Regions from separate parts of the Homo sapiens genome. Here regions 2, 3, 4 and 5 are each linked to region 1. The links come from fine-mapping of genetic effects on gene expression. A gene starts in region 1. Each other region holds a variant in brackets. All regions are shown on one strand. Distances are from middle to middle.

Region 1 (6,290 bases):
TGTTACCTCACAGACCCCGTGAAAGGATCTTAGGGCCTGTGGGTCTTCCCACACCACAGGGTGGAGACCCGCTGCTCTGGGAATTAGTCTGCATCCTAAACTCCAGTTTTCTCAGTTCCTATTGTACCACTTCATGTGAAATGAAGGAAACTTGTAACCATGAGTCCACCCCCTTGTCCTCTATACCAGCAGTCCCCACCCTTTTTGGCACAAGGGACTGGCTTCATGGAAAACGGTTTTTCCACAAACCAGGGATGGGGCCAGAGGGAGATGGTTTCAGGATAGTTCAAACACATTACATTCATTGCATGTTTTCTTTCTATTATTATTGTTATTGTAATATATAATGAAATATTAATAATTATACAACTCACCGTAATGTAGAATCAGTGGGAGCCCTGAGCTTGTTTTCTTGCAACTAGACGGTCCCATCTAGGGGTGATAGGAGACAGTGACAGGTCACCAGGCATTAGATTCTCATAAGGAGCACACAGCCTAGATCCCTCCATGCATAGTTCACAATAGGGTTCGTGCCCCTATGAGAATCTAATGCTGCTGCTGCTGCTGCTGCTGACAGAAGACGAAGTTCAGATGGTAATGTGAGTGATGGGAAGCAGCTACAAATACAGATGAAGCTTTGCTTGCTCACCACCACTCACCTCCAATACTGGTCCACGGCTCAGGGGTTGGGGACCCCTGCTTTATACTACAGTCTTCATATATGTTACAGCTACATATGTTATAAACCTCACAATACAATGTTATAATTTTTGCCTGGAACAGTTCTACATATTTTAAAGACATTAAAAAGAAAATCGTATTTTATATTTACCTTCAAATTTACCGTTCTTCTTATTCCTGTCTGCAGCTCTGCTCTTCCAATTTGAGACAGCGTCTCACTCTGTCACCCAAGCTGGAGTGCAGTGGCACCGTCATGGCTCACTGCAGCCTCCATCTTCCGAGCTCAAGCAATCCTCCCACCTTGGCCTCCCAAAATGCTGGGATTATAGGCGTGAGCTATCGTGCCCGTCCTAAAGAACTTTCTTTAGCGCTTCTCATAGTGGAGGTCTGCTGGCGACAAGAATCTCTGTTTTCTTTTATCTGAAAATAGCTTTATTTCATCTTCATTCTGGAAGAATACTTTCACTAGAAAAACAATTCTGAGTTGACTTTTTTTTTCCTTCAGCATTTTAGAGATATTCCACTGTCTTCTGGTCTATATTGGTTTTGATGAGAAAAGAGTGACATTGAAAATATTGTTCTGTCTAGTCTTTAGGATGGGATTAAAAAAAAGAAAAGATTTTCTCTTGTCTTTGGCTTTTAGCAGTTTGACCATGATGTGCCAAGGCATGCCCTTTTTTTCATTGACCACTCTGCCAGTTAGAGACGAGGTCCCAGTGTAGGGGAGGTGGTGCTGAAAACACAGCGGGGCACAGCTCAGCCCTAGCCCACAGGGGCCTGCAGTGACCAGCTATGCACAGAGCCATCAGCTCCTTCTCCAGTCTCACATCACCAGCCATTCCTCCCCTTGCCCTTGACCCTAACTCATGCTGCAGCCGCACACGCCACCTAGGTGAGACCAAGGTGGGCCCTCATCTTCAGAGTGCTGGATTACCCCAAACAGGGACCACATCCAGACCCTGGACTGCCCAGTCACCTGGGGCTGCCGGTGCATCACTGCCTCCCCACCCTCTTGGCTCCCTGTCCTCTTTCTCACCCAGCCTCACTCCAGCACTTTAACCCCTATCCATTTAGGGTGACCACCAGTCCTGGCTTGCCCAGAACTTCCCTCATTTTAAAACGGAAAGCCTCATGTCCTGGGAAACCCGTCGGTCCCACGCAAATCAGAACAGTCGGTCACCCTACCTGTCCTGGAGTTTCCTTCCAAGGCCTTACTCCTCCCTCCTCCAGCTCATCTCCAGGAAAGTCTTCTCAGATGGGCTAGCCTGAGTTTTCCAGTTCCTGCCCCTCTTAGCAAACAAGGAAATAATGCTCTGAAGGGAAACGAGGGGTGGACTCCCCAATCCTGATCTGAGTCTTGGCTGGTTTCTTCTTAACACATGGGTCTTGGGATTGGTACCATTGTTCACTCTTTGGCTGCATCTCTGGCTCCCAAGGTGCTCCAGGTGACCCTAAGAGTTCTATGAGAGAGCAGGTTTCAGTGGTCTCAGGGGAGGAAAGAAGTCCTAGTCAGAGAGGCCCACTCCTCGAAGATGGGTATGGGAGATCATCCCCAGTTGTGTTTGGGGTTGGGGTGTGGCAGACAGGTAGGCTTGATCTCAAGACTGTACCTGAGACATTGCATCTGTCCTGGCCATCACTCTCTTATCATCTCCTTGTAGCCATAGACTGTGGCTCTCCTAAATCTCTCTAGCCTAGAAAAACCAAAGATGCAGAGCACACCCTGTTTGGGTCTGTAACTTGCCTCCATATTACTATATGCAAAATGGGGGAAGCAATAGATTCTTCTCTGAGAGGTGTGTGTGCGCGCGCACATGCATTTGTGTGTGCATACAACGTAAGGCCTTCCACACACCTGCCTTCTCTGAGGATGGGACCACCCATCTCCATAAGAGCCTTCTGGCCTCCTACCAAGCTGTGGGTGAGTGTCCTTCCTCGGGGAGCGGTGAGAGCAGGCAGGGGCTCTAGTATCTGCCTAAAGAAGCTTGAGTGACGGCTTGAGTGATGACTGGGACTAGGGACTGAGGGACACCTGGGCTCGACCCCAGCCCTGACCATGCTGGACAAGCAGCCTCCAGAGGTTGTGAATAGGATTCAAAAGACCACCTAAGCGCATGTCCCCCACCCCTGCTTGGGGAGGAGGGAAAGGAAGAGAAAGCTCAAGTTCAAGGATCACAAACTTCAATTCTACAAGAGGGAGGCTCCCCGGGTATGTCGTGAACGGAAAGGTCGGGGAGGAAGAGACATGGCTGATTGAAGGCAGCAGCCATAACTCACAAGGAGCCATCCTACACACATGGCAAAAATTAATGTTAAATAGTACAAAAGGGTCGAGTCAGTGCCCTGCCACCCTGACCTCTGAGGGCCAGCGAGGTTTTTGGACGTTTCTCCCCTAAGCTGCGGCGGGCCCGCTGTTCCTGAGTCAGACGGCAGGTGGCGCTCAGCCCGGAGAATTGGAGAAGGGGAACTGTGGAGTTGCTTAACATTTCCAGGAACTTCCTCCTCCCCCACCGGCCTTCACCTTTTGTTCCCTATCCTGGGCCAGTTCTCTCGCAGGTCCCAGATGTCCAGTTCCAGATGCCTGGACCCAGAGTGTGGGGGAAATATCTCTGGAGAAGCCCTCACTCCAAAGGCTGTCCAGGCGCAATGTGAGTGTGGCCCCGGCAGAGGAGGAGGGAAGAGGACGGGAGGGGAAGAGAAAGGGTGGGTGGCCGCAAACCCTCCCTCCCCCCACCCTACCCCCCCCACACACACATCCCCCCCCCCCCCACACACACACACACACACACACCTCCCCCACATACACACACCAGCAGCAGCAGCAGCAGCAGCACAGCAGATATTCCATGGGGAGACTGAAATTTGCCTGTGGCCTCTAGCACCTTCCCAGAGGGTGGTCGGGGGATATTTACGGCAGACCCTCACTCGCCCCACCATTGCTCCCTCGGATCCCAGGGTGGGGTGGGATCTGCTGAAGCAGAAAGCACCCCCCTCCTTTGGACGAGACTCTCCTGGGAGATGAGCAAAGGTGATGTCTTCGGAGGATGGAAAACCCACAATCCTAGAGCTCAGGCTGCGCGGGAGGCTGTAGGGATTGGGGTGAGGAAGGGGAGCAAGGGAGGAGACGGGAAGTGCCCGGGCCTCAAGGGTGAGGCCACAGCTTCTAGCCCTGCCTCGCGAGGCCTCTGAGTCCTAGCGCGGCTCCCCCGCTCCTCCCACACCCACAGGCTTCCGGCCATAGCTGCGCGGCCCCACCTTGCCCTCCCCCCAACTCACAGGTGGTGGCTGCTTCTCTGGGGAGTCCTCCAGGCTTGCCCAACCCGGGGCTCCGTCCTCTTGGCCCAAGAGCTACCCCAGCAGCTGACATCCCCCGGGTACCCAGAGCCGTATGGCAAAGGCCAAGAGAGCAGCACGGACATCAAGGCTCCAGAGGGCTTTGCTGTGAGGCTCGTCTTCCAGGACTTCGACCTGGAGCCGTCCCAGGACTGTGCAGGGGACTCTGTCACAGTGAGCTGGGGATGGGGGGGGTCCCGCCAGGACTGTGGCCAGGGAGATTCCCGGGGTTGTGGGAAGTGGCGGTGCCCTGAATCCCCCATCTGGAGGAGGGATGAATTTTCCATGTAGGGGCAGTCGGGCTTGGCTTACCGGGGAGCAGTGGTGGACCCCAGGACACAGCCTCCCACCAGCGCCTCCGGGGCTGCCATCTGGGCCCCACAGAGCAAAGAGGGCAGCAAGCAGGCCCTGCGTTTGGAAGGCTTATGAATGGACACACAAATCTTGCAAATCTATGGAGCCAGGGGCAGGGACGCACATATTGGTTGTTAAAAATATGTCATCATGTATTTGTTGAGTGCCTGCTCTATCAGGTGAGGAAGCTGGACACAAATAATAACAAAAGATTAAGTCACCGTTCACACTTACCTTGGAAGAGCTATTACAAAACTTCTAACGCCAAAGCCTTATTCAGAATAAGGACATTTTAAAAACAGTACTTGATGGAGTGATGCAAGCTTGCAGTCCCAGCAGTATAGTCAGGAGACTGAGGCTGGAGGATCAGAGGGCTGGAGCCCAGGGTTCAAGGCCAGCCTAAGCAACATAGCAAGACCCCATCTCAAAAATAAGTAAATAATAAATAAAAATAAAAAGAGCACATTATCTTTTGATTTAAATTTTATTTATATCAAAATGACATAAATTTTTGAACTTTATTTTTTAATTTTAAAATTTTTAATTATTATGGATACATAATAGTTGTAAGACTTTTTGTTTTTTAATTAAAGTTTTCTAAGGCTGGGCGCAGTAGCTCATGTCTGTAGTCCCAGCACTTTGGGAGGCTGAGGCGAAAGAAGCACTTGAGCCCAGGAATTTGAGACCAGCCTGGGCAACATAGCAAGACCCCATCTCTACAAAAAAATTTAAAAATTAGCCAAGTGTGGTGGCACGCACCTGTGGTCCCAGCTACAAGGGACGCTGAAGTGAGAGGATCACTTGAGCCTGGAAGGTAGAGGCTGCAGTGAGCTCTGATCATGACACCGTACTCCAGCCTGGGTGACAGAGTGAGACCCTGTCTCCAAAAAAAAAAAAAGGTTTTTAAAAAGGTTTATGAATAACAGCAGTCTCCAAGCTGTTCCTCCCCGCCCCTGAGTGCTGCTCCTCAGGAGCAGTCATTTGCCAATTCATGTAGCTGTTTCATCTGGTCTTTAACTTCATATGTATAAATAACATGCTTATTTGTCTTTCATTTTTACGTATTTTCTATTAATGCTCAACTACAGTATAGAAGATAAGGACTAGCTTTATCTGTCTTCAGTCTTCACCACCCACATTTCCCCTCCTCATTCTGCCAGTTTACCTATATTATCATTTTTAGTTAAATCTTTATTCATTATTTACATTATTATGACTGTAAAATATTCACATCTGAGCACATAGCATAAAATAATTATATTTCTTTTCTTCTCCAACTTTTGGGTTTCCTAGGAGTCAATAGTTACATGGAGTTTTTTTGTTTTGTTTTGTTTTGTTTTTTGGTGGGGGGTGTTTGTTTTTGTTTTGCTTTTTAGTTTGCTTAGTTGTCTCTGTAACTAATCTCACCAGACTCTTAACCAGGAGTGTAAATCTTCTTCTGAAATACTCAAGCATGAATTTCAGTCTATCGGTCCTCCTTTTAATTGGTGACATCCCTCCTGAAGATCTCTCGATTTATTTTCACAGCCTGAGTTCTTTGCTCTCTAAGCCGTCACACATTCTGGGAGTTCTCTTCTCCCTCTTTCTGGGGATTTCCTTTACCTGTGCTGAACCTGAATCCCATACCTTTCTCTTTTTTGGTTTACTCTCCCATTTTGGAGGAGCACCTTCACCAGTGGCTTCCTTAGAAAGGGTATTTTAGAGTGAATTTTAGAAGATCTTATATATGTCTAAATGTCTCAGTTCTACCCTCACAGTGGAGGGATAGTTGATCTGGGTATAGCATTCTAGATTGGAAACCTTTTTCTTCCAGAATTTTGATGATATTGTCTTCTAGGTCTAGACTTTGTTAAGAAGTTTGATGCCCTTATCATTCCTAATCCTTTGTTTTCTCTCTCTAGAACTTTTGGAATATTTTCCTT
Region 2 (6,290 bases), 100 kb before region 1:
TCCAGCGGCAACCATGCTGCTGCGAAGGTCGTGATTTTGTTCTTTTTCGCGGATGCATAGTATTCTATATTGCATATGTATCACATTTGCTTTATCCAGTCCACCATTGATGGGCATCCAGGTTGATTCCACGTCGTTGCTATCATGAATACTGCTGCAATGAACATATGAGTGCATGTGTCTTTTGGGTAGTGATTTATTCTCCTTTGGGTATATACTCTGTAATGGGACTACTTGGTCAAATGGTAGTTCTAAGTTCTTTGAGAAATTTCCAAACTGCTTCCCACAGTGGCTGAACTGATTTACACTCCCACCAACAGAGTATAAGTCCCCTTCTCTCTGCAACCTCACTAACATGTTACTTTTTTGACTTTTTAATAATAGTCATTCTGACTGGTGTGAGATGGTATCTCATTGTGGTTTTGATTTGCATTTCATTAGTAATGTTGAGCATTTTTTCATTTATTTGTTGACCAAATGAATGTCTTATTTTGAAAAGTGTCTGTTCATGTCCTTTGTCCATTTATAAAATAGTTTTCTTAACCTTAGCCTTAGTGACTGCAAATTTTGCGGACTACAAAGTCACCCAAATGCATAATCTGAGTAAAATTTTAAGATGCCACGTCTCTGATAAATTTGGGTTATCAACAATAATTGTATTGCTCATTGATGCTAGCTTCAATATAATTTCTAAAATCCCAAGATGAATTTAGAACTTTTGACTAATATAATACTGATATCATTATCAGTATTATATTAATAGGTAATAGTCTATATCCGAAGATTTCCAAAGAAATTAGTTTCAACATCTATTCATGTTTTTAATGTAAAAACATGAATAATGTAACATTCACAATTTTTTAAGAGAATAATTCTTTTTTTATTTTATTATTATTATACTTTAAGTTTTAGGGTACATGTGCACAATGTGCAGGTTAGTTACATATGTATACATGTGCCATGCTGGTGTGCTGCACCCATTAACTCGTCATTTAGCATTAGGTATATCTCCTAATGCTATCCCTCCCCCCTCCCCCCACCCCACAACAGTCCCCAGAGTGTGATGTTCCCCTTCCTGTGTCCATGTGTTCTTATTGTTCAATTCCCACCTATGAGTGAGAACATGCAGTGTTTGGTTTTTTGTTCTTGTGATAGTTTACTGAGAATGATTTCCAATTTCATCCATGTCCCTACAAAGGACATGAACTCATCATTTTTTACGGCTGCATAGTATTCCATGGTGTATATGTGCCACATTTTCTTAATCCAGTCTATCGTTGTTGGACATTTGGGTTGGTTCCAAGTCTTTGCTATTGTGAATAGTGCCGCAATAAACATACGTGTGCGTCTTTATAGCAGCATGATTTGTAGTCCTTTGGGAATATACCCAGTAATGGGATGGCTGGGTCAAATGGTATTTCTAGTTCTAGATCCCTGAGGAATCACCACACTGACTTCCACAATGGTTGAACTAGTTTACAGTCCCACCAACAGTGTAAAAGTGTTCCTATTTCTCCACATCCTGTCCAGCACCTGTTGTTTCCTGACTTTTTAATGACTGCCATTCTAACTGGTGTGAGATGGTATCTCATTGTGGTTTTGATTTGCATTTCTCTGATGGCCAGTGATGGTGAGCATTTTTTCATGTGTTTTTTGGCTGCATAAATGTCTTCTTTTGAAAAGTGTCTGTTCATGTCCTTCGCCCACTTTTTGATGGGGTTGTTTTTTTCTTGTAAATTTGTTTGAGTTCATTGTAGATTCTGGATATTAGCCCTTTGTCAGATGAGTAGGTTGCGAAAATTTTCTCCCATTTTGTAGGTTGCCTGTTCACTCTGTTGGTAGTTTCTTTTGCTGTGCAGAAGCTCTTTAGTTTAATTAGATCCCATTTGTCAATTTTGTCTTTTGTTGCCATTGCTTTTGGTGTTTTAGACATGAAGTCCTTGCCCATGCCTATGTCCTGAATGGTAATGCCTAGGTTTTCTTCTAGGGTTTTTATGGTTTTAGGTCTAACATGTAAGTCTTTAATCCATCTTGAATTGATTTTTGTATAAGGTGTAAGGAAGGGATCCAGTTTCAGCTTTCTACATATGGCTAGCCAGTTTTCCCTGCACCATTTATTAAATAGGGAATCCTTTCCCCATTGCTTTTGTCAGGTTTGTCAAAGATCAGATAGTTGTAGATATGCGGTGTTATTTCTGAGGGCTCTGTTCTGTTCCATTGATCTATATCTCTGTTTTGGTACCAGTACCATGCTGTTTTGGTTACTGTAGCCTTGTAGTATAGTTTGAAGAAGTCAGGTAGTGTGATGCCTCCAGCTTTGTTCTTTTGGCTTAGGATTGACTTGGTGATGTGGGCTCTTTTTTGGTTCCATATGAACTTTAAAGTAGTTTTTTCCAATTCTGTGAAGAAAGTCATTGGTAGCTTGATGGGGATGGCATTGAATCTGTAAATTACCTTGGGCAGTATGGCCATTTTCACAATATTGATTCTTCCTACCCATGAGCATGGAATGTTCTTCCATTTGTTTGTATCCTCTTTTATTTCCTTGAGCACTGGTTTGTAGTTCTCCTTGAAGAGGTCCTTCACATCCCTTGTAAGTTGGATTCCTAGGTATTTTATAGCTTAATTCTTAAGTCATTTACACAGCCAGACTTTGTCATGTCCTGCACCTATGTAGTGTGGAAACTGCTCCTCCACCTGCCCAGCCCACTTCCCGCCTGGGTCTTTGCACCACCAACCTGCAGAGCCCAAGACACCAGCTGCCTCGTGATCCCCCAGGTGGTGACAGGTGCCACAACAGCTTCCTGTTTTCCTCCCCCAGGTGTTTAATTTTCTCCTCTAGAAAAGTATCAAACATGCACCAAGAAAATTTGAGAATTACAGAGAAGTATGATCTCCCCACTTTTAGCACATTGGGATAGTTCCCTATTGTCTTTTCAATGCATTTTTTTCTTAAGACAATCTGTAAATAATTGACCAACCATTTTTCTCACTATATTGTTAGCATCTATTGTCACTGGAAATTATTCCATAAATGATTAAATAGCAATAGCTATATTTCACTGTCTGGACAATTTACTTACCCAGTTGTCTTTTAGACCTGTTTTTTTTGTTTTTTGGGTTTTTTTTTTTTTTTTTT[TTTTTTC/C]TGGCAGCTTTTGAGCTCACCGGAAAAAAAAAATTAGACTTTGGCCAGGTATGGTGCTCCTCCCTGTGATCCCAGAACTTTGGGAGGCTGAGGCAGGATTCCTTGAGGCCAGGAGTTCAAGACCAGCCTGGTCAACATAGTGAGATCTAGTCTCTATTTGAAAAACTTTTTAAATAAATTTAAAAGTTAGACTTTTTTTTGGCTGGGCACGGTGGCTCACGTCTGTAATCCCAGCACTTTGGGAGGCCGAGGTGGGTGGATTGCCTGAGGTCGGGCGTTCGAGACCAGCCTGACCAACATGATGAAACCCTGTCTCTAATAAAAATACAAAATTAGCTGGGCGTGGTGGCACATGCCTGTAATCCCATCTACTTAGGAAGCTGAGGCAGGAGAATCGCTTGAACCCAGGAGGCGGAGGCTGCAGTGAGCTGAGATCACGCCATTGCACTCCAGCCTGGGCAAAAAGAGTGAAACACTGCCTTAAAAAAAAAAAAACAAAAAAAAAAAAATTTTTTTTCCAAGTCTAATGTGCCCACAAACATCTATCTCCAAGTATAAATATTTGTGTATATTTTTAAATTTTTCCTCAGGATAAATACCCATCTTGATATGGCACTTGATACAGTTCCCGATAAAGGCAGGCAGAGCCAGATGAAAAGCTTTAGAAACCCTAAGCACTGAAAAACTATCAAAATCCTTCCATGTAATTCATAATACAAAACAACCTAACAATTATATGGCACTGCACACTTTCCTTTGTAGTAGTAACAGGAGTAAAAATTCATGATTATCGACATCTCTTTCTCCTGCTAGCCCAGAGGCCCAGAGAACAGGGACCCTGTCTCCTGTGCTCTATCATTTTTAGAGGGATGAGCAGGTAACCAATATACCAGTGAGAATTTGAAAGGCAGAAACTGTTGAATCCCAGTCCTCCAAACGCCAACTCACCTTCTGCCATCCCAGCTTCATGACCAGCAGAACTCATACCCACATCAGTTCCATTTATTCTTCGTACAAATATTTTACAGTTTTATTTTTAAATCATTTACACATATTCATACAAAGAAAAATAAATTTCAGGATGGAATCCTGGGACCATGGTAGTTTAAAAAAAAAATCTCTCTGATCATTAGCTACTAAAGACAAGGCAAGAGGCTTAGCAGTCATTTCTGGGGGTTAGTGTATCTCCCCATGCAGGGGACAACTGAGAAGAATCCAAGCTGCTCCCTCATCTTCCTTCGATCTAGATGGGGGAAGGGGATTTTCCAATGCTCTCCCCTAGAAACATTTCAAGAAGTACAGCAAAGGCTTATGGTAACACTGAACCTATTTGCTAGAAATCTGGCAAGATTGCACTTTCTGAACCAATTTTCTATAACAGTTGGCTCAATTCCCATTCACAGGTGCTTCTAAGAGGATGAGGGATTGCCGCACTCACCATACCCCCTTCCCACTTGCTCTGTCCTCCCACCAACGTTCCTGAATAGAGCCCTTGATCTCTTCTGATCTAGTCCCTCCCCGCTCCCACCCAGCCTCATTTCACAAGCAAACCTTCCTCCTATGCCACACACCCAGACACTCTGTAGCAATTGGCCCTGGCAGCTCCTGAGGACCGCTGCAGTGATGACACAGGACTATTGCATCAGCATCGTGCTCACAGGGAATCAGAGCTCAGCCAGGAGAGGTCCAAGAATGACAGAACCATGAGCACTCCTACCAAAACTCAGCTCTGCTCAGCCAAATCAACAATTCAACCCAACAGGCCAACTCCTAACACATCCCATCCAGACAGACATTAGAGGCGCACAGCAGATGAACCTCCTACTTACACTGCCCAAGGAAGCTGGACTATCAATTCCCAGTAAAAGTGGGGGAAAGGACAGACATTACAGATGTGGTAGACCCTATCAGAAATGGCAGCTGATGATAACAGTTACCCTAAATCGTGGGGTCCTACCCAAAAAGCAGCACCAAGAAAGGGCATGATGAGCAGAGAGATCTGTAGCTGGATGTACAGCCCTTGAATTACCAAGGGACTCAGAGATGACACAGCTCATTTTCCTACAATTATGTAGGAACTAGAACACAGACTACCCACCCCTACGTTGAGGCAGCTCCTGAAAGGCCGTACCGCTTATGGTCATCAGCCCGCCCCCTTGGTAGGCCCATTTGGGGAGAGGGAATCACATCCAAAGCGGGGATCCCTCCAGGTGGACACTCACAGGGCAGCCCGTCCCACTGTCACTGGGGCAGGCCAAACATAGTTAGGAGGGTGGACAGATCCCGCGCGTCGGCTGCCCCATAGGCATCGCTCTGGCCTAACATAGACAATGCCAAACGCAGGGTGCTCCAGATGTTCTCCGACATGGCACCTCCTTCACCCCGGGGGCCCCGGCTTTTCCTCTGCATGTTCAGGGCCTCCAGAAAGTGCTCCACAGCCTCCCTGTAAGGAAGAAGAGGAATGAGAGCTGTTAAGCTGAACAACAATGGAAGGAAGCAGGTCAGCTAGCAGTGGGAGGGAGAAAGCTAGGGCTGGTTAGTCAAACAGGATCTAAGAATAAGGAGCTAGGGCCAAAGGCAGGGAGAAAAAGCTCATTCATTCATTTCTCAATAGATACTCTCACCGGTGAGCCCCGAGGTTGATGCAGCTGATGCCCAGGTTATAGCGGGACCGGATATAGCCAGGCTGGAGCTCGAGGGCCCGGCGGTACGCAGCTACTGCTTCTTCACTCTGGTTTCCATTGGCCAGGGTGGCGCCTAGCTTATTCCACAGCAAATAGTCCTGGGATAGGGATGCAGAACGGATGGGAACAGCTTGACTCAGCTCAAACTCTGCACATTACTCCACCGACTCAGCTCAAACTCTGCACATTACTCCAGCTGTTTCACTACTCTGTTAGCTAACATGTTTCGTCCCATTCCATTCTCAACAGTTCGGTGTGTGGCTACAATGTAGCCCCTCTCACCCTATGCAGACTCTCTTATGTCCAGATGACCCTACACTCCCAGCCTTCTTTTCCCAGTCCTCCCAAGGCAGTCAGTACATGGAACACTGGAATGAAATACCCCAAGACTCCAAAAGTCTGAACAAATTATTCTTTTTTGTGGGGGTGGGCAGGGTCTTGCTATGTTGCCCAGGCTGGAT
Region 3 (6,290 bases), 150 kb before region 1:
AAAAAACTGTCATAAAAGAAAGTGAGAAAATATAGGTAAAATTACCTCCTCCTTGCAGAAGCCATCAGCAACAACTTCCTCAACTTGGAGTCTTTCCCTTTCACTCATTTTTTCTCTTCTACATCCCACCTTCCCTGCGTCCAGGGTCAGGAGGAGGGTGTTCTGGATCCCTCCTCTTTGTCTCTACAGTGGCCTCACCCATTTTTCCTTCTCTTTTCTCTTCCAGCTTCTCTGTTACTGACCCTTTCTCACAAGCAGTCAAACACGCTGACATTGTTCCTCTATTTTAAAAGCCAATACCTCACTCTTGGTCTCCTGTTGCTTATATTAATATTTCTCTCCAGATAAAGTTTTTTGTTGTTGTTGTTGTTTTTGTTTGTTTGTTTGTTTGAGATAGGGTCTTTCTCTGTCACCTAGGCTGGAGTGCAGTAGCCCGATCACAGCTCACTTTAGCATTAAACTCCGGAGCTCAAACAATCCTACTGCCTTGGCCTCCAGAGTAGCTGGAACACAGGTGCGTGTCACCATGCCTGGCTAATTTTTTATTTTTTGTAAAGATGATGTATCGCTATGTTGCCCATGCTGGCAGGTTAAGTTCTCAACAGAAAAGTTCACTTTAATTGAGGCTTTTACAGACTTTTCTTCTAGACACCCCTCCACATACTACATTGGCCTCCTGCCCCAACTTCTCTCCTGAAGCTGCCTTTGCCATAATCATAGGGACCCTCTGGGTGCCACATTCAGTTGTTCATTATACATATTGATCTCTTAACAGCATTTGAAACTACTAACCATTCCTTCTTATAACTTTCTCTTTCCTTGGTTTTTATCATATCATTCTCTTCTGCCATTCCTTTTACCTGTCTAACTGTTCCTGCTTCATCTCTTTCTTGGACTCTTCTTCTTAAATATTGGCATTGCAAGGGCTTCACCTTTAGCCTGCTGTTCTTCTGGAACTATATTCTGTGCCTGAGTGACCTCATTCATGTTCATAAATTCAATCACCATTTATACACTGAAGATTTCCCAAGTTCATCTCTCATTTAAACAACTCTTTTGAGAATTAAACCCATTTCTCCAACTATTTCCTGGTATTTCCTGGACATCTTCACCCAAATGTTCAATGAGCGCCTCAAAAAATCAAGAACATAACAATTCTTGAACATATTCCCCTGTTCCCAGAATATAAGTTCAGGAAAATAGGAACTCTTACCAATATTTTTTATTGCTATATCCCTAGAGCTTATAATATTGTCAGACACATATTAAGTGCTCAGTTAATATTGGTTAAATGAATGGAAATTTTCCCCACCAACCTGTTCTTCCCTCTGTATAGCATTAATATTTGCTCAATTATAGCAACATGGTTTCTTGTCATCTCTTTTTTCCTTAATCCTTATATCCCATTGGTTTTCTATGTTCTGTGTATTCAACCTGCTCAATCTAAAGTCCATTTCTTCTCCTACATTCTCACTGATATTTTTCAGGCATTTATAATCTCTCCTTTTGTATCCTCACTGTTCTTATTCATATGATGGGGATAATAATAGGACTTTTCTCATAGGACAGTCATAAGCTTCAGTGAAGTAATATACCCAAACTCTTAGTATGGTGCTGGGATGACTCAGTAAATTTGGCGAGACAGCTGTATTTCTTATGTATCTATATGGATCTCTACAAATACATCTACATGTAGTAAGAGGACAGTCTAGTTAACCTCCATATTTTAGTGTAAGTCCTAACCCAGGAGAGAATGTATTGAACAGATAAATAAATTTGCTTTGTAATGTCAATCAAGTCATGTCCTTGTTGGCCTTCAGATTATTCATTTATTAATTCAGTTAACTAGACTAGCTAGGATCATTTTATAGCATTTTCATATTACAAAGCACGTTCATAGCCATTAACTCATCTTATTTCCATGGCTATTATTCATCTTATTTCCATAGCATTTATTATCATTAGCACCCCAATTTTCAGGTGAAATAACTGAGGCTTAGGATATTAGTTGTCCATAACCCGTCCACTACTTGTTAAAAGCAGAATCAGGATTTGAACCCAGTCTTCTAATGCTAAGTCCTATTGTTCTAAATATTCAGGTGAAAATATATGCATTTTATTTTCGTGTTTCAGGAAGTTGTTTGTGGTCTCTTATTGCACTGTTTTTTCTTGAGTCAGTTGGTGTTGAAGGATGGAACTTAGTGGTAGAAGCCACTCTAGAGCCCTAGTTCCTTTAGCTTACAGAAGAAAAAGAAACAATAAAAATCCATTTCCTTTAGAGGTTGTGAAATCAGAGGAAAAAGCCACCTCATCCCACACCCCAGTTGTAGTCAAGAGCCAGACTTTGCTGAGGCATTTTGGCAGATTGAACCCTTTGTCTGTGTTGACATAGATGCTGAGGGGAGCTTTCTTTATTATGAGATAAAGAGACAGGATCTGAGATTATAAAAGCTTTCACATGTCAGAAAAAGAACCAGTGGGAACAAGTTCATTCATGAAGCTGCCTTAAGGAACTGCAGGTGTTGAGGCACTGGGAGAGACATACACAAATGGATAGATTTCAGGTTTCCAGGACCTCCACCCAGTCACCATCATAAGTACTCATTTGGGGAATCCAGATTGTTCATTGCCTAGCCCAGTGGTTTTTCAAGTATGTTTTGTGGACCTTCAGAGTCAGAAGAATTTGGGGTATTTTCACTTGTTGCCCTATTTACATGATTTTTCTAAATCATTTGAAAGTAAGTTGCAGACATTATTTTCTTTTTTAAATTCTTCAGCATTCATCTTTAAAACATGAGGACATTCTCCCATATAGCCATAATAGGAGAATATTATGACCATCGAAGACATTCATAATTCCTAAATATCATTTATAACCATTCCACACTAAAAATTCCTCAATGGTCCCAAAATGTCTTTTATAGCTTTTTTAAAAGTCCAGGATTCAAGCACGTCTCCTGTAATGTAGAAGAATTCTCTTGCTTTTTTTACCCATGACATTGTCTTGAGAAGAATCCAGATCAGTTGTTGTCTTGATGAATATCTCACATACTGCCTGTGTATTTTTGTGTCCTTGTGGTCTCAATTAACTTGTTCAGGGAAACTGGCAGTCTACTACGCTGCTGAGAGTATAAATTGAGGTCATCTTCCTGGAGGGAAATGGGTAATATATTTTAAAACTTTCACAG[A/G]CTTTAAATTAAGCTGGAGCCCGATTAGATTCAGGATAAACACTTCTAGCAGGACATTTCATAAATAATCCATGTATAACGCACTGCATCATCTTACTAGGCACATGATGTCAGATTGTCCCACTATTGATGATGTTAAATTTGTTCACTTGGTTCAGATGGTGTCAGCCACACTTTGCAAGTGTAACTTTCACCTAGAGGACATAGCATCCAGTTATGATCCTTATCTAAATCAATCATTGGAGATTGCAAAATGTTGATTTCCAAATTCTGTTATTCTTTCTACTTTTACTAACCAGAGTTTTCCTCAAAAAGGAATTTTTCTCCCTCCACCCTTTCATCCCCCAACCCACCCTGAGCATCATGGTAGACTCGGAATTTTAAAGATTCTATGGTTTTTTTTTAACCATTGCCTTGATTATATTCCTTTTTCTTTCTTTTTTTTAATTATACTTTAAGTTTCAGGGTACATGTGCACATGGTGCAGGTTAGTTACATACGTATACATGTGCCATGCTGGTGCGCTGCACCCACTAACTCGTCATCTAGCATTAGGTATATCTCCCAATGCTATCCCTCCCCGTTCCCCCAACCCCACCACAGTCCCCAGAGTGTGATATTCCCCATCCTGTGTCCATGTGATCTCATTGTTCAATTCCCACCTATAAGTGAGAATATGCGGTGTTTGGTTTTTTGTTCTTGCTATAGTTTACGGAGAATGATGATTTCCAATTTCATCCATGTCCCTACAAAGGACATGAACTTATCATTTTTTATGGCTGCATAGTATTCCATGGTGTATATGTGCCACATTTTCTTAATCCAGTCTATCGTTGTTGGACATTTGGGTTGGTTGCAAGTCTTTGCTATTGTGAATAGTGCCGCAATAAACTTACGTGTGCATGTGTCTTTATAGCAGCATGATTTATAGTCCTTTGGGAATATACCCAGTAATGGGATGGCTGGGTCAAATGGTATTTCTAGTTCTAGATCCCTGAGGAATCGCCACACTGACTTCCACAATGGCTGAACTAGTTTACAGTCCCACCAACAGTGTAAAAGTGTTCCTATTTCTCCACATTCTCTCCAGCACCTGTTGCTTCCTGACTTTTTAATGATTGCCATTCTAACTGGTGTGAGATGGTATCTCATTGTGGTTTTGATTTGCATTCTCTGATGGCCAGTGATGATGAGCATTTTTTCATGTGTCTTTTGGCTGCATAAATATCCTCTTTTGAGAAGTGTCTGTTCATATCCTTTGCCCACTTTTTGATGGGTTTTTTTTTTCTTGTAAATTTGTTTGAGTTCATTCTAGATTCTGGATATTGGCCCTTTGTCAGATGAGTAGGTTGCGAAAATTTTCTCCCATTTTGTAGGTTGCATGTTCACTCTGATGGTAGTTTCTTTTGCTGTGCAGAAGCTGTTTAATTTAATTAGATCCCATTTGTCAATTTTGTCTTTAGTTGCCATTGCTTTTGGTGTTTTAGACATGAAGTCCTTGCCCATACCTATGTCCTGAATGGTAATGCCTAGGTTTTCTTTTAGAGTTTTTATGGGTTTAGGTCTAACGTTTAAGTCTTTAATCCATCTTGAATTAATTTTTGTATAAGGTGTAAGGAAGGGATCCAGTTTCAGCTTTCTACATATGGCTAGCCAGTTTTTCCAGCACCATTTATTAAATAGGGAATCCTTTCCCCATTGCTTGTTTTTCTCAGGTTTGTCAAAGATCAGATGGTTGTAGATATGCAGCGTTATTTCTGAGGGCTCTGTTCTATTCCATTGATGTATATCTCTGTTTTGGTACCAGTACCATGCTGTTTTGGTTACCGTAGCCTTGTAGTATAGTTTGAAGTCAGGTAGCGTGATGCCTCCAGCTTTGTTCTTTTGGCTTAGGATTGACTTGGCGATGTGGGCTCTTTTTTGGTTCCATATGAACTTTAAAGTATTTTTTTCCAATTCTGTGAAGAAAGTCATTGGTAGCTTGAGGAGGATGGCATTGAATCTATAAATTACCTTGGGCAGTATGGCCATTTTCACAATATTGATTCTTCCTACCCATGAGCATGGAATGTTCTTCCATTTGTTTGTATCCTCTTTTATTACACTGAGCAGTGGTTTGTAGTTCTCCCTGAAGAGGTCCTTCACATCCCTTGTAAGTTGGATTCCTAGGTATTTTATTCTCTTTGAAGCAATTGTGAATGGGAGTTCACTCATGATTTGGCTCTCTGTTTGTCTGTTATTGGTGTATAAGAATGCTTGTGATTTTTATACATTGATTTTGTATCCTGAGACTTTGCTGAAGTTGCTTATCAGCTTAAGGAGATTTTGGGCTGAGACAGTGGGGTTTTCTAGATATATAATCATGTCGTCTGCAAACAGGAACAATTTGACTTCCTCTTTTCCTAATTGAATACCCTTTATTTCCTTCTCCTGCCTAATTGCCCTGGCCAGAACTTCCAACACTACGTTGAATAGGAGTGGTGAGAGAGGGCATCCCTGTCTTCTGCCAGTTTTCAAAGGGAATGCTTCCAGTTTTTGCCCATTCAGTATGATATTGGCTGTGGGTTTGTCATAGATAGCTCTTATTATTTTGAGATACGTCCCATCAATACCGAATTTATTGAGAGTTTTTAGCATGAAGGGTTGTTGAATTTTGTCAAAGGCCTTTTCTGCATCTATTGAGATAATCATGTGGTTTTTGTCTTTGGTTCTGTTTATATGCTGGATTACATTTATTGATTTGCGTATATTGAACCAGCCTTGCATCCCAGGGATGAAGCCCACTTGATCGTGGTGGATAAGCTTTTTGATGTGCTGCTGGATTCGTTTTGCCAGTATTTTATTGAGGATTTTTGCATCAATGTTCATCAAGGATATTGGTCTAAAATTCTCTTTTTTGGTTGTGTCTCTGCCAGGCTTTGGTATCAGGATGATGCTGGCCTCATAAAATGCGTTAGGGAGGATTTCCTCTTTTTCTATTGATTGGAATAGTTTCAGAAGGAATGGTACCAGTTCCTCCTTGTACCTCCGGTAGAATTCGGCTGTGAATCCATCTGGTCCTGGACTCTTTTTGGTTGGTAAGCTGTCGATTATTGCCACAAT
Region 4 (5,760 bases), 26 kb before region 1:
CTCTTGCCTCACCTGCTCCAGCTTCCAGAGGAACTTGACTGGGCGGGCACTCTCAAGCAGGGGCCAGTAGAGGAAGGCAATCCTACAGCCGTGGACAGTCAGCGAGTAGTGAGAGAAGCCGTCCTCTGAGGGCACAGGAAGGGGATGGGGTCAAGTGCAGAGGCTGAGGCCAGAACAAGTTCAAAGCAGCAGGAAGGAGAGGATGTTGGATTCTCTTAATCCTCTCTCATTCCCTCGTTCTCTAGCATTTTTCTTTCCTCTCTCTCTCTCTCTCTCTCTCTCTCACACACACACACACACACACACACACACACACACACACATTCCAGTCCAAGTGATAACTTGGGCTTCTTAGGCACCCTGGCTGGCTGGCTGAGGAGGGAACATCAGCTGGCCCACTCCATCACCAGCTCTTCATCAGTCCTTTGGTTAATACATACATCATGGGTGACAACCCTTTTCAAAAGAGTTGTCAAGGTCAAGAGAAATGAGGTTGGAGAATTGGCTAGAAATGAAAGAGCAGGTCAAGACTAAGCCCTCTCCAGTGAAGTAGGCCCTGCAGTTGAGGGAAGAACAGGCCTCGGAGTTGGGGCCAACCAGTCCCAGGATGGGATGATGAAAGAATGGGGCACACCATTACCCAGGCTTTCCCATTGCAATGGAGGGGCTTTAATGGAGGTGGAGATGGGGGGTGGGGACAGCCTACCACATGGTGGGACACAGAGAAGTTGACTGGGCAACTGAAAACAAGAGTAGCAGCAAGGAATCCCATTGCACTCTGACAGCAGTACGATCCAACATGTCATGTTGGGGATAAAGCACAGAATCAAGGCATATCACACCTGGCACTTGCACCTCACAAATGAAGAGAGGGGAAGTGACCTGTTCACAGTCACACACTGGGCAGTGACAGAGGCGGGACAAGAAGCCAGTTTCCCCCTCTGGCTAGTGCCTGGAGGGGAGGCTCACCATTCTGGACAGTGTTACATACGATGGTTTCCTCTTCCTTCTTGCCCTTGTTGGGAGTTACGCCATGCTTCATCCAGAAGGACAGGGTGAAGTGGTCACTGAGGCTGTCCTGGGGCCCAGAGCCCAGCCCACTGGGGCCACCCAGGGGCACCTGCACAGCCTGGGTGCCATTGAACCAGTAGATCAGGCTGCTGTCCTGGCTGTAGTGCACCGAGAGTCCTGCTGTCCAGTTGGCATTGGGGCCAGGCATGGGCAACAGATCCACCTCCCCAGTGGCAGCACCTGTGGGAGCCCCAGGAGGCACAAGTGTCAGAGCCAAGAAGCAGCAGATGGTGAAAAGGGCAGGAGGCAGGGAAAGAGGGACTGATGGGAAAAGATTTCCTACAGCACGTCTTGCCACCTTTTATGGCCTTTCAAAGACAAGAGAGGGATGAACTCACTTCTAAGAGTATCTCTCCAGTTAACCCATTCTCCAACTCTTCATCTCGCCCTACCATTGTTCCACCATGCATCCGGTGACTGTCTGGTGCGATGACTATGCATCTTTGCCAAAGACATATGTACCTGCCTTTTGGGCCGCAAATGCTAATCGTGTCACAACCTCTATGGATAAACACCTGTGGATGGCCAGTGGTGATGTAAAGCAGAGTCTTGGAAAAGTTTGGACAGAGGTTGGATGGGAAGGGATAGGCCTGAGGCAGTGTTGGGGGCACACCTACCACAGAGTTTCCGCAGCGCCCGCTCTGAGTAGTTGTCACGGTCACAGCCCTTGGCCACATGGCTGGTCTGCAGCTCTATGGTGGCCTGAATGTTCCAGAGTGGTTCATCACAGGTCTCCAGGCGGATACCAGGGAACAAAGCCAAGCTCCCAGCACCTGGTGCATATTCGATCCTTTTGTTCCAGCCTGCATGGGTGAGACAGAGAGGGTGATGGGGAGAGAGAAGGGTAAAGCAGCCTCCCCTCTCCATGCTCCTCTTGCCATGTCCATGGACAGTTTGGGGCTCCTGGCAGGATGGCCCGGCTAGAGTAGATAGCTGCAAGCCTGCCCCAATATCATCCAAGCCCTAGCCTGGCCCCCATGATTGTCAGAAAGGACAGAAAGAGAGACCAAGAAAAAAGATGATTCACAAGATGGGGCACAGCGCTGAGCTCTCACCTTGCCAGCTGGGTTTACAGGTGGGCTTCACCTGAATCTCCACCTCAGCATCATCTGCTGCCCGCTTCTTCCCACAGTCATAAGCTGTCACTGTAAACTTATAGAGCCTCTCACCACTGTACTGCAGCTTCTCTGTGTTCTCAATGTTCCCTGGGGTGGGGTCAGGAGGACAGAGCATTAGAGCATTGGAGAAAGCCCAGGGCAGGGAGGGGAGGATGTCTGAGATCATCGGGCAGCAGGCAGGTTAGGCAGCAGGACGCTGGGAAAAAAGGCATCTGGGAGGAGAAGGCTCCATTTGGGAAGAAGGGTGAGGTGAGGGTCTGAGGGGCAAAAGTGGAGAATGCAACCCTGGGTTGTCCTGAGGGAGGTGGGTGCTCAAGGGGAACTGGGTGGCCAGGGAAGCCAGGGGTGGACTCACCGTCATTGTCAATGAGGAAAGGGGTGTTGGGTGTGAGAATCTCATAGTAGCAGATCTGGCTGTACTGGGGGGAGCAGTCACCGTCAATGGCTTCCACCCGCAGGATGCGATCGTACAGCTTCCCCTCTGTCACAGCCGCACGATACAGCCGTTCCACAAACACTGGGGCAAACTCGTTCACATCGTTGACCCGCACATGCACAGTGGCCCTGCATATGCCAGAGAGAAGGAGGGATGAAGACACG[T/G]CAGCCAGCCTCGACATTATACATTGAGATACAGCCTTGATACAGCACACCGAGGTACAGCCTCGATACGGTACATCAAGATACAGCCTTGATACGGCACATGGAGGGACAGGTTCGATACCGTACACCAAGATACAGCCTCAATACTGTACACCAACAAACAGCCTCAATATGGGCACAACGAGATACAGCCTTATACTGTACACCAAGGTACAGCCTCGACACGGTACACCCATATGCCAGAAAGGAGCAAGCAGGAATCCCGACGGAGAGCCAGAACAGGAGGGAGCCTGCCCATCTATCCCTGAGACTGAGGCAGTCAGCACGCTCCTCCCCACCCCACAGGGCACCAAGCTGCATCAAAGTCATGCCAGGGAGAGGACAACACCAGAGGGAGGGCCCAAAGAAAGGAGGACTGATGTAGGGGATGAGGAACAAGGCCCAGGGGTGCTCAGGAGCTGATTTTGATGACTTCTGTGCAAAATGCTATGGGTCAGGGTGCCAAGAGGAGGGGTAAGGCATAAAATCCAGCAGGGCCTTCCTTCACAACAGTCAGATCCGGGGGGATAAGCAAGGAAGATGCAGAGTAAAAGCCAAATTAAAACCAGCCATAAGAAGGGAAATGGCATGTGTACAAAGGTCACAAGTCATCTGACATGTCTGCACAGTACGTGTGGGCAGTGCTGCCTCCCGCACATGCGGCCCCTCCCTAGTCATGCACCGGGGCAAGCAGAGCTGGGTCGAGGCCCTTCATGCTGAGCCCTGCCCCAGGCCAAGACCCAGGCTCCCAGGCCCCAGAGGCAAGGGTCCTATCTTCAAATGGGAAACTGAGTCACAAAGAGCATTTTATCTCTAGTGCCTCTTAGTGGCTCAGGAATCCTGACTGAAGATCTTTCTCTTATTCTCAAATAAGAAGTTAGCTGGCAACAAGCGTAGGTGTCCCAGACCCGAGCCTCTTTCTTGCTACAACCATCGCCTGCCCACCCTCACCTAGAGCTATATGTGTATGATAGGGATCGTGTGTGTGGTATACACTGCAAATAGACTGGAGGGGGCAGTTGAAAGGGAACTGGATGCATGCTGAGTGTGTTCATCCTCTTCCTTCTTGCTCTCCTCCTCATCATTATGCCCATGTACTGTGCCCTTCAACGTGTATCAGGCACTGTGGTGCATGCTTTCAACACAAACCATCTCCTTGAATCTTCACAGCAGCCTTATGAAGTAGGTGTCATCACAATCTCCATTCTACAGATAAGGAAAAGCAAGTCCAGAAAGGCTAGGCTGCCCAAGGTCATGAGAGGCAAAGCCAAGATTAGATCCACTGAACTCTACTATACGTTTCTGTCACCTTGCCTGAAAGTCCCTAAATCCTAGGAACAGCAGGGGATGGGGCTCCCTAAGTCCTAGGAACAGCAGCGGGTGGGGGTGGATATTCGATGACCGCACGGACAGAGGATGGTGGGCTTGGGAGCAGGGAGGAGGACCCTGCAACACATGGGGCAGGAGACAAGGACTTCCTCACTTGTGGGACTTCTTGGTGTTGGCCCCGTCGGGGCCCTCGCCACAGTCATAGGCCTGGATGGTGAAGGTGTGTTCCTTCTGGGCCTCGCAGTCCACAGGCTCCTTGGCCCGGATCAGCCCCTCTCCTGTCGCCTTGTCAAGGATCACAGCCTCAAAGGGCACCCCAGACCCATGGAGCCGGAAGCCGCAGATCTCACCTGGCAAAGGGGAGAAGGGGAGGAGTGAGGCTGCTGTGTCTCCTTCCCCACCCTCAGTCTCCCCACCTGGGGTCCAGCTCCACCTCTCCTCCCAAAGCCCTGTCCCTTCTCCTGTAGGCACAAAAGCATTAATGATCAAACACGCAACTCTAAGCCCAGCTTCCCTGAGCAGCAACCTCCCAGAGCCTCCAGACCTGAGATCTGACAAAATCATGATGTGTTTAACCCTTGCCTGGCCATGTCCTTTTCTGGCATCCTTGACTCAATCTCCATTCTTCAGTGGAGACCATTCCCCTCCTTGAGCCCACTTTTATCTTCCCTTACTTTCTCATCACTCCCAGGACCTTCCCTCCCTCCCTTGCTCTTGGCCCTCCCACCCACTTTTCTCTGTCCTACCCTGCCTTGCCATCCCCCAATCCCAATTACCTGCATAGCGCAGCGGGGCATCCTTGTCCAAGGCAAAGAGTGGTGGATTCAGTAGGACCGTGTTGTCATTCTCCATGACGATGCCCTGGTACTCTGCCTCAATCCATGGCTTGTGCTTGTTGGCTGGCCCCACCCCAGGGAGAGGAGAGGAAGCACCTGTGAGCAGGGCCTCTACTCCCACAACAACCCTTGTTGACCCAGACAACTCACACCCCAGCACCATCACCTTTTCCACCCCCTATAGGAGCACCTTACAGGAGGCGGGTGGTTGAGGACAAGAAATCAGCTACTAAAGGAGTCAGAGGGTCTGCGGGAGGTCATAGCCTTCTCCTATAGCAGGGTAGACAGTTCCCATGGAAACAACCTGCCCTGGGGGTGAAGAGGAGGGGATCACTATCTCCATGGGAACCATGGTCAGGAAGTGGAGAATGTTCTTTAGCGATTTCACGTGCTAGAGAATGGAGACAGGGAACTTCAGGGAGCAGTGGTGGGCTGTGAGAAGGCCCTGGGAAAGGGAAGGGATAGATTAAGGGCAGAATTGAAACTAGAAAAAGATCTAGAAGTTTCCTGAGATCCTGATTGCTTATCCTCCTCCCAACTCATTTCAGTCCTGATCCCTTCACTCTGCACTTCTCCCAGCCAAGCCCCAACTTGAGGCCACTCTCCCAGAACACAGGATGGGGAGAAAGGAGAGAAGTGAAGATATATAGGACAGAGGGAGGGGGCAGAGAGGGGCAGGAATGGAGCAGAGGAATCAATGCTGAGCAACTGGACCCAGCAGAGCCGTCATCCTAAGGGATTATCGGGCTGGCCTAGAAACATGACAA
Region 5 (6,290 bases), 33 kb before region 1:
TAAATGGGCTTTCCAAGAAAAATACTAAAAAAAAAAAAAACTTCAGGAAAACTTGCATTTAGGCATTGACCAAATAGTTGCATAAATCTGGCTTTAAATAGACAGAGGTCCAAGAACTGAAAACTGGAAGCTATGAAAGCCACAGGGACAGGGGCAAGGAAATGCATCAGGGAAAGGGAGGTATTGCTAGGTACCTGTCTGTGTCTGTTACATACACACAAATGCGCGCGCACACACACACACACACACACACACCCCTCTATATTTTCTCCCGTGACCTCAGGGAAGTATTAGGATAGCACCAACCATGTAGTAACCTTAGAAATGGAGAAATGAAAACTCTGTTTCTTAACCTCATAGAGAAAACATCAAGGCCCCTTTCCTCAAAGGCAGGTTCCAAGCCCTTGGATAAACCTCTATCCTGGGCATGAAAAAGATAGCAGGAATTCAGATGAGGCAGTCAGCAAAGAGAATGTCAACTCCTCCCCCCGCAGGAACTCCCCTTGCAGAGCTCCACCCTAGGCCAAAAACCAGAGCCCTCCCTTCTGCCATGGCTCCTCAGCACTGGAGGGGACGAGGCAATGCCTTGGCTTCTGAGGGATCAAGCCTTTCATAACTGGATGACAGCCCTTTAACAACTGGAGCTCTGACTGGGACATGGCGGGGTGCATACTCAGCAATCAGCTGCACCCACATTAACTCAACTGCCTGTGACCTTCAGCTCCACACCCTGAACCAGCAAATTCCCAAAAGCCACAGCCCGGGGCCTTCCACAGCTCTAACTGTGAGGCCTGATAATCACGCCCAGTCACCCTCTAGGGCTCAGAGCCCTCTCCCCTCTAAACCCACCCCTCCCAGGATAGGGGCAAATTTGAGATGTTTATCTTCATATAGCTCACAGAGAAACTGAGGCAGAATCGGGGAGAGGGGTAACAAGATTGGAACGCAGAAATCCTAACTCTTAAATCATGTAATTCACCCACTAGATGGCAGTATCTCCTAAAAACCGCCCATAAACCATAATAAGGGGTGAAAATGCCTTTATGTAATAATAGCCAGCATTTAAGCGGCATCCACTCTCTGCTAGGCATTTGATCCAGATTATATCATGTAGTCATCGTAACAATTCCACGAGTTAGACTCTATTGCTATCACCACTTTATAGCATTTGCCCAGTGCCAAAAAGCTAGCAATAGACCCTATGCTCTTAACTATCATACTTTCGTTGCCTCTCAATTGATCTGTATTTTTAAACATGTAATATATACTCAAACCTTGAAATAATCTACAATTTTTCTTTTAAAGACTCCAAAAGTCATTCACTTAGAATTCAGAGGTCAGTAAACTTTTTTTTTTTTTTTTTTTTTTTGAGATGGAGTCTCGCTTTGTAGCCCAGGCTGGAGTGCAGTGGTGCAATCTCGGCTCACTGAAACCTCCGCCTCCTGGGTCCCAGTTCAAGCAATTCTCCTGTCTCAGCCTCCCAAGTAACTGGGATTACAGGCACGTGCCACCATGCCCAGCTAATTTTTGTATTTTTAGTAGAGACAGGGTTTCACCATGTTGGCCAGGCTGGTCTTGAACTCCTCGTGATCCATCTGCCTTGGCCTCCCAAAGTGCTGGGATTACAGGCGTGAGCCACCGTGCCCGGCCAGCAAACTTTTTCTATGAAGGATTAGATAGTTCTGTTTGAGGGGGCCATATGATCTTTGTCCCAACTACCCACAGTTCTGCCATCACAGTGAAAGTAGCCATAGACATATGCAATGAATGGGCACTGCTGTGTTCCAATAAAACTACAAAACAGGTGGGCAGGCCAGATTTGGCCTAGGACTGCCAACCCCCAGACTTAGGCCATCGTACGTGACCTTGCAAGAGCTTGGTGAAGCAAGATTAAAACAAGTGAAGCAGCCAGGACTCACCATTTGCCCGAGGTTATCCAAGCAATTCGCATTGAGTCAGAATTAATGTCAGGTCTCCCCACTCCCAATCCTGTGTCCCACTTTACGTATCAGCACAGAGGCATAGAGAAGATCAAAGCCCGGAAACCCTAGATGTGTGACTTGGTAGAAAGAGTAACAGATTGATTGTTGAGAAATCTGAGTATAGTCCAGACTCTTCTACCAATATTGCTATGTGACCTTCAGTGGTCAATTGTCTCCATTTGAGGGCCCAATCTCCTCATCCATAAAACAAAAGAGGTATGCCTAGCTCTAGGTGACGCCTTAGGCCAAGGAGCTGTGACACTGTCTGGCTCTGCTTGGTGATTTGCCCTGCCCCACCCAACACTCACTTGACAGCAGTGGTGAGGCGCAGGGGCCTGACGCCGGGCGTGGCAAAGCGCAGAGTGTTCATGTAAGCCACATGCTGCAGGGCATGGTTGAAGGTCTCCACATCATCCCCCTCCAGGGTGAGCAGGGACTGTGAGGGGTTCACGTGGACCTGGGCCCCAGACACAGATACAGCTGAGAGCAGGGCCAGGAGGTGGCAGAGGAAGGGAGCAGAGGTAGAGGGGTAGGGCAAGGGGGTGGGGCAAGGGGCATGCTGGGAAGAACAGGGCTAGAGGATGGGGCAATACCTTCATGCCTTTGCCCAGGCTCTCGAAATCCCTATAGTCCAGCCCCTCCCGACATGCATAGAGGCACTCGATGACCTCGCGGCTCTCCAGGCGACCTGAGCGCACGCTGAAACCAGCCAGGTAGCCATGGAAGTAGTGGTGGATCGACAAAGGGTCTCCTAGGGTAGGAACACAGGAGCAGGACGGGAGGTGAGAAGAGAGGAGGATGGAAAAGGACGAAGGCTGAGAGAAAGGGAAAGGAGAGAAAGAGCAGAAGAGTTGAGAAAGAAAAAAAGGAGAAATGTGGAAACCAAAAAAAAAAAAAAAAAGGAAAAAAGAGAGATGAGAGGTGAGGGAGAAGTGAAGGTAAGGGGGGAGGCTAGAGAAGGGAGAAAATGAGACAAAAGAAGACAGAATAAAGCCAGGGGAGAAGAAGAAGGGTGAAAAGTAGAAGCAACAAAGATGAGAGGGAGGAAGAGAAGGAAACAGGACCAACAGGAGGAAAGAGTCAAAACAAGGAGGGAGGGGGAGGCGGCAGGAGAGAACGTCTTTCCAGTGACATGCAGGGAGACCAGGATGGATGTGAGCGAGCTTCACAGATGCCCAGACCTTCCCCTTCTGCGTGTCTGACTCCTGACTCCTGCCACCTCCCTTCTACCATGTGGAAAGCCACCAAGAGAGCCCCATTCTTCATTCTGTGGGCAGGACAGGATACCCAGAACCCAGCCAAGCTGCCTCTAGCCTTACCACTCCAGGAGCCCCTGCCCTGCTGTATTTCTTGGAGGCTCTGCCCCCTGGTGGCCTAGGAGG[C/T]TGTCACAGGCTGGATAGGATTTGGGGTGGAAAAGGGATCTCAGAACAGAAAGTGAAGATGAGAACTCTCTGGTCTCCAGTTCTTACACACGGAGTACCTTGGGTGGTGTCTGTACTGTTGTCTCCCTTTTCCTTCTCTTTGTTCTTCTCCTCTGGGGATAAAAAAAAAAAAAAAACAGTGCTGGTGAGCTCAGGGATGTGGAGAGATTGACAGAGAGGAATGAGATGTCTTCCTCTCATCCCCATGAGTGCTCTCATGCCCACATGGGATTCTGACCCTGCCCATGTATAACTTGCAACCTCTCAGCTCAGCCCCAACCCTTCTTTTGTCATGTTCCAACCTCTCCAGCCTCTATTATAGACAAACCCCCAAATACGATATGCTGCTGAGGAAACACGTGGGCTCTGGTAAGACAGACAGGCACATGTGCACACACACACTCCCAAGAGGAGAAAAATTTTTTCAATGGCTTAAAAGTTGGAAGACCGAGGACACTCTAAGGGGTTACTCTCCTTGAGCAGGGGAATGGGCTATGGAAGTCATCATCACTTTGATGGAAAAAAGTGGAAACTGGCTGGAGTTACAGAGAGAGAGTCTGGGGATGCGTGAGAAGTTAATTCCTCCAAGTCAGAGGTGATGACCCATTGGATTAGTGGGAGATACGGGAGGGAGGCTGTGGTCCCTTCCCATGGAGATCTTCAGAGTCACCCTGCACAGCTGCAGAGAGATGCAGGAGGCGGCCTCAGCTGCTGGGTCAGACTGCCCTTGCTCCTCACCAGCCTACCTCCCTTCCCAAATCCTGAACCACTGGAGTCTTCACTGAGAAGCTTACCAGTCCAGCAGGCCCCAATCATGAGAGCAGGCTCCCTTCGGGGTGGGTGGATGAGGCCATTGTCATGGATGAGGGCAGGGTCGAAGGAGATGCCGTCGGTATAGAGTGTGACTGTGGGGAACTCGAGGTTCAGAGCGTAGTGGTGCCACTCATCATCACAGACCTGGGAGAGTAGGGTAGGGGCAAGAGCCTCTCAGGTAATTCGTCTTCAGAGAGCTAACCCTAGGCACTGCCCCATCTCCTGGGAGACAGGGGACAGTCCCTTTATTCCCAGTTCTACCAACAGGGCTTACTAGTGCTTTGCTGCCTATCCAGCTCGAGGAATAACATCCTTGTCCAAAATCTATCAGGCAACCAACCTAGTAGCAAAGATTCCACTCTTCAGGTAAATCGTTAAAGCTATAAATATTCCTAAGAGGAGTAACACACTTTCATGAATAAATTCCCTGCCCCCCGAACTTATGTATTACATATGTGTGTAAGGCACTGGAAACTCTAGAGATGGGGTTTCCTTCTGTCCCCCAGGCTGGAGTGCAGTGGTGCAATCATAGCCCACTGAAGCCTCAAACCCCTCGGCTCAAGCAATCCTCCCACTTCAGCCTCTGGGGTAGCTGGGACTACAGGTATGTGCCACCATGTCCAGCTAATTTTTTTATTTTTTAGAGATGAGCTATCACTATGTTGCCTAGGCTGGTCTCCAACTCCTGGCCTCCAGTGATCCTCTCAGCCTCCCAAGTAGCTGGGATCACAGGTTATCTCTAGGATAGCTTCTAACCCAACATTAAGCACTAAAATAAATATTGCTTCCCTTTGCAGTCTCTCCTAGGGCCAGCCAAGATGGAATGGGGGATGGTCAGAGGAAAAAGGGGCAGAGAGTACTCTGCCTCATCCAGTTCCAAATGTTGGGGTCCCTCAAGGCTCAGACCTAGGCCCTCTTCTCTTTCCTCTCTACACTCTTTTCCTAGAAGTCACCTCATCTGTTGCCATGGGTTTGGGTACCATAGTTATACACTGGTAACTCCAAAATCCACATCTCCAGCCCATAACTCTCCTCTGAATGCCAGATTCTCCACTTGGATGCCCACAAGTATCTCACATTTAACACGTGTAAGGTGCAAGTCCATGCCCTTTCCCAACTCCCTCAGTTTCTCCCCAGGCAGTATAAATGCTCCATCATCCATCTAGCTGCTCAAGTGGCTGACGTAGGAGACAACTTTGATCTTCCCTTTCCCTCAGCCTCCACATCCAGTCCATTAGCAGGTGCTGTTGATCCCAGGTCCAAACAGAGCTACAAGCTGCAGGTTTCTGTGCAGGTCTCTCCGTCTCCATTGCCACACATCAGTCATGTCTCCAACCCCTTTCATGAAGACTGTTGCAACAGTCCTGTTTACTGTCACCATTAGATACCTTCAATACAACCATCCCACAGTTGCCAAGGGGATCTTGTTAAAATGTAAATCTGGCCAGGCGCAGTGGCTCACGCCTGTAATCCTAGCTCTTTAGGAGGCCAAGGTGGGTGGATCACGTCAAGAGATCAAGACCATCCTGGCCAACATGGTGAAACCCCATCTCTACTAAAAATACAAAAATTAGCTGGGCGTGGTGGCACACGCCTGTAGTCCCAACTACTAGGGAAGCTGAGGCAGGAGAATCTCTTGAACCCGGGAGGCCGAGGTTGCAGTGAGCCAAGATCGCACCACTGCACTCCAGCCTAGTGACAGAGTGAGACTCCATCTCAAAAAAAAAAATAATAATAATAATAATAATAATGATGATGTAAATCTGATCAGGTCATGCCTCTGCTTTAAAATCCTTCAAAAAACACTTCCTGTCTCTCATATGACAAAAATCTAGACTAACCCTGCTGAAAAAGTCCACTGTACAACCTGATCACTGCCCATCTCTGCAACTTATCTCCAGTCTTGTTCACTGTACTCCAACCGCACTGGCCCTCTTTCCATGCTTGGAACATGCTGAGCTCTTTCTTGCCTCAGGGCCTTTGCATATGCTCTTCCCTCTTCCTGGAACCTTCCCACACTCTTCCCACACCCAGCTATTTCTCATCCTTTAGCACTAGGCTTAAATTTCCCCTC

What was found. PIP is the estimated chance that this variant, and not a neighbour inherited with it, causes the effect.
Region 2: its variant is fine-mapped to the expression of C1RL-AS1 in whole blood (INTERVAL, PIP above 0.99).
Region 3: its variant is fine-mapped to the expression of C1RL-AS1 in whole blood (INTERVAL, PIP above 0.99).
Region 4: its variant is fine-mapped to the expression of C1RL-AS1 in whole blood (TOPMed, PIP above 0.99).
Region 5: its variant is fine-mapped to the expression of C1RL-AS1 in whole blood (INTERVAL, PIP 0.98).

What each region holds. Positions count from the first base shown.
Region 1 is chr12:7,106,149-7,112,438 of GRCh38, reverse strand. It overlaps C1RL-AS1 (C1RL antisense RNA 1), which reads right to left and starts at 4,131. Exons shown (of 12, transcript NR_026947.1): 1 at 3,958-4,131; 2 at 3,492-3,766; 3 at 2,292-2,375; 4 at 1,867-2,141; 5 at 833-1,414; 6 at 375-432. C1RL (complement C1r subcomponent like) reads left to right here and starts at 3,225. Exons shown (of 6, transcript NM_016546.4): 1 at 3,225-3,329; 2 at 3,960-4,188. The coding sequence starts at 3,259. RefSeq lists enhancers at 3,284-3,363, 4,004-4,173, 3,006-4,205.
Region 2 is chr12:7,209,320-7,215,609 of GRCh38, reverse strand. PEX5 (peroxisomal biogenesis factor 5) reads right to left here. Exons shown (of 16, transcript NM_001351132.2): 15 at 5,770-5,927; 16 at 4,151-5,588. The coding sequence ends at 5,387. Among named protein-coding and RNA genes, the nearest start is that of PEX5, 23 kb to the right of the region's middle. The variant TTTTTTC/C (reference allele first, on the strand shown) is at 3,140.
Region 3 is chr12:7,254,595-7,260,884 of GRCh38, reverse strand. No RefSeq gene overlaps it. Among named protein-coding and RNA genes, the nearest start is that of ACSM4, 46 kb to the left of the region's middle. RefSeq lists a silencer at 1,575-1,775. The variant A/G (reference allele first, on the strand shown) is at 3,189.
Region 4 is chr12:7,132,320-7,138,079 of GRCh38, reverse strand. It overlaps CLSTN3 (calsyntenin 3), which reads right to left. Exons shown (of 18, transcript NM_014718.4): 2 at 4,934-5,056; 3 at 4,312-4,507; 4 at 2,545-2,753; 5 at 2,127-2,276; 6 at 1,689-1,874; 7 at 970-1,251; 8 at 13-125. Among named protein-coding and RNA genes, the nearest start is that of CLSTN3, 4.8 kb to the right of the region's middle. The variant T/G (reference allele first, on the strand shown) is at 2,790.
Region 5 is chr12:7,139,312-7,145,601 of GRCh38, reverse strand. CLSTN3 (calsyntenin 3) reads right to left here. Exons shown (of 18, transcript NM_014718.4): 9 at 4,198-4,360; 10 at 3,463-3,516; 11 at 2,576-2,733; 12 at 2,291-2,439. Among named protein-coding and RNA genes, the nearest start is that of CLSTN3, 12 kb to the right of the region's middle. The variant C/T (reference allele first, on the strand shown) is at 3,365.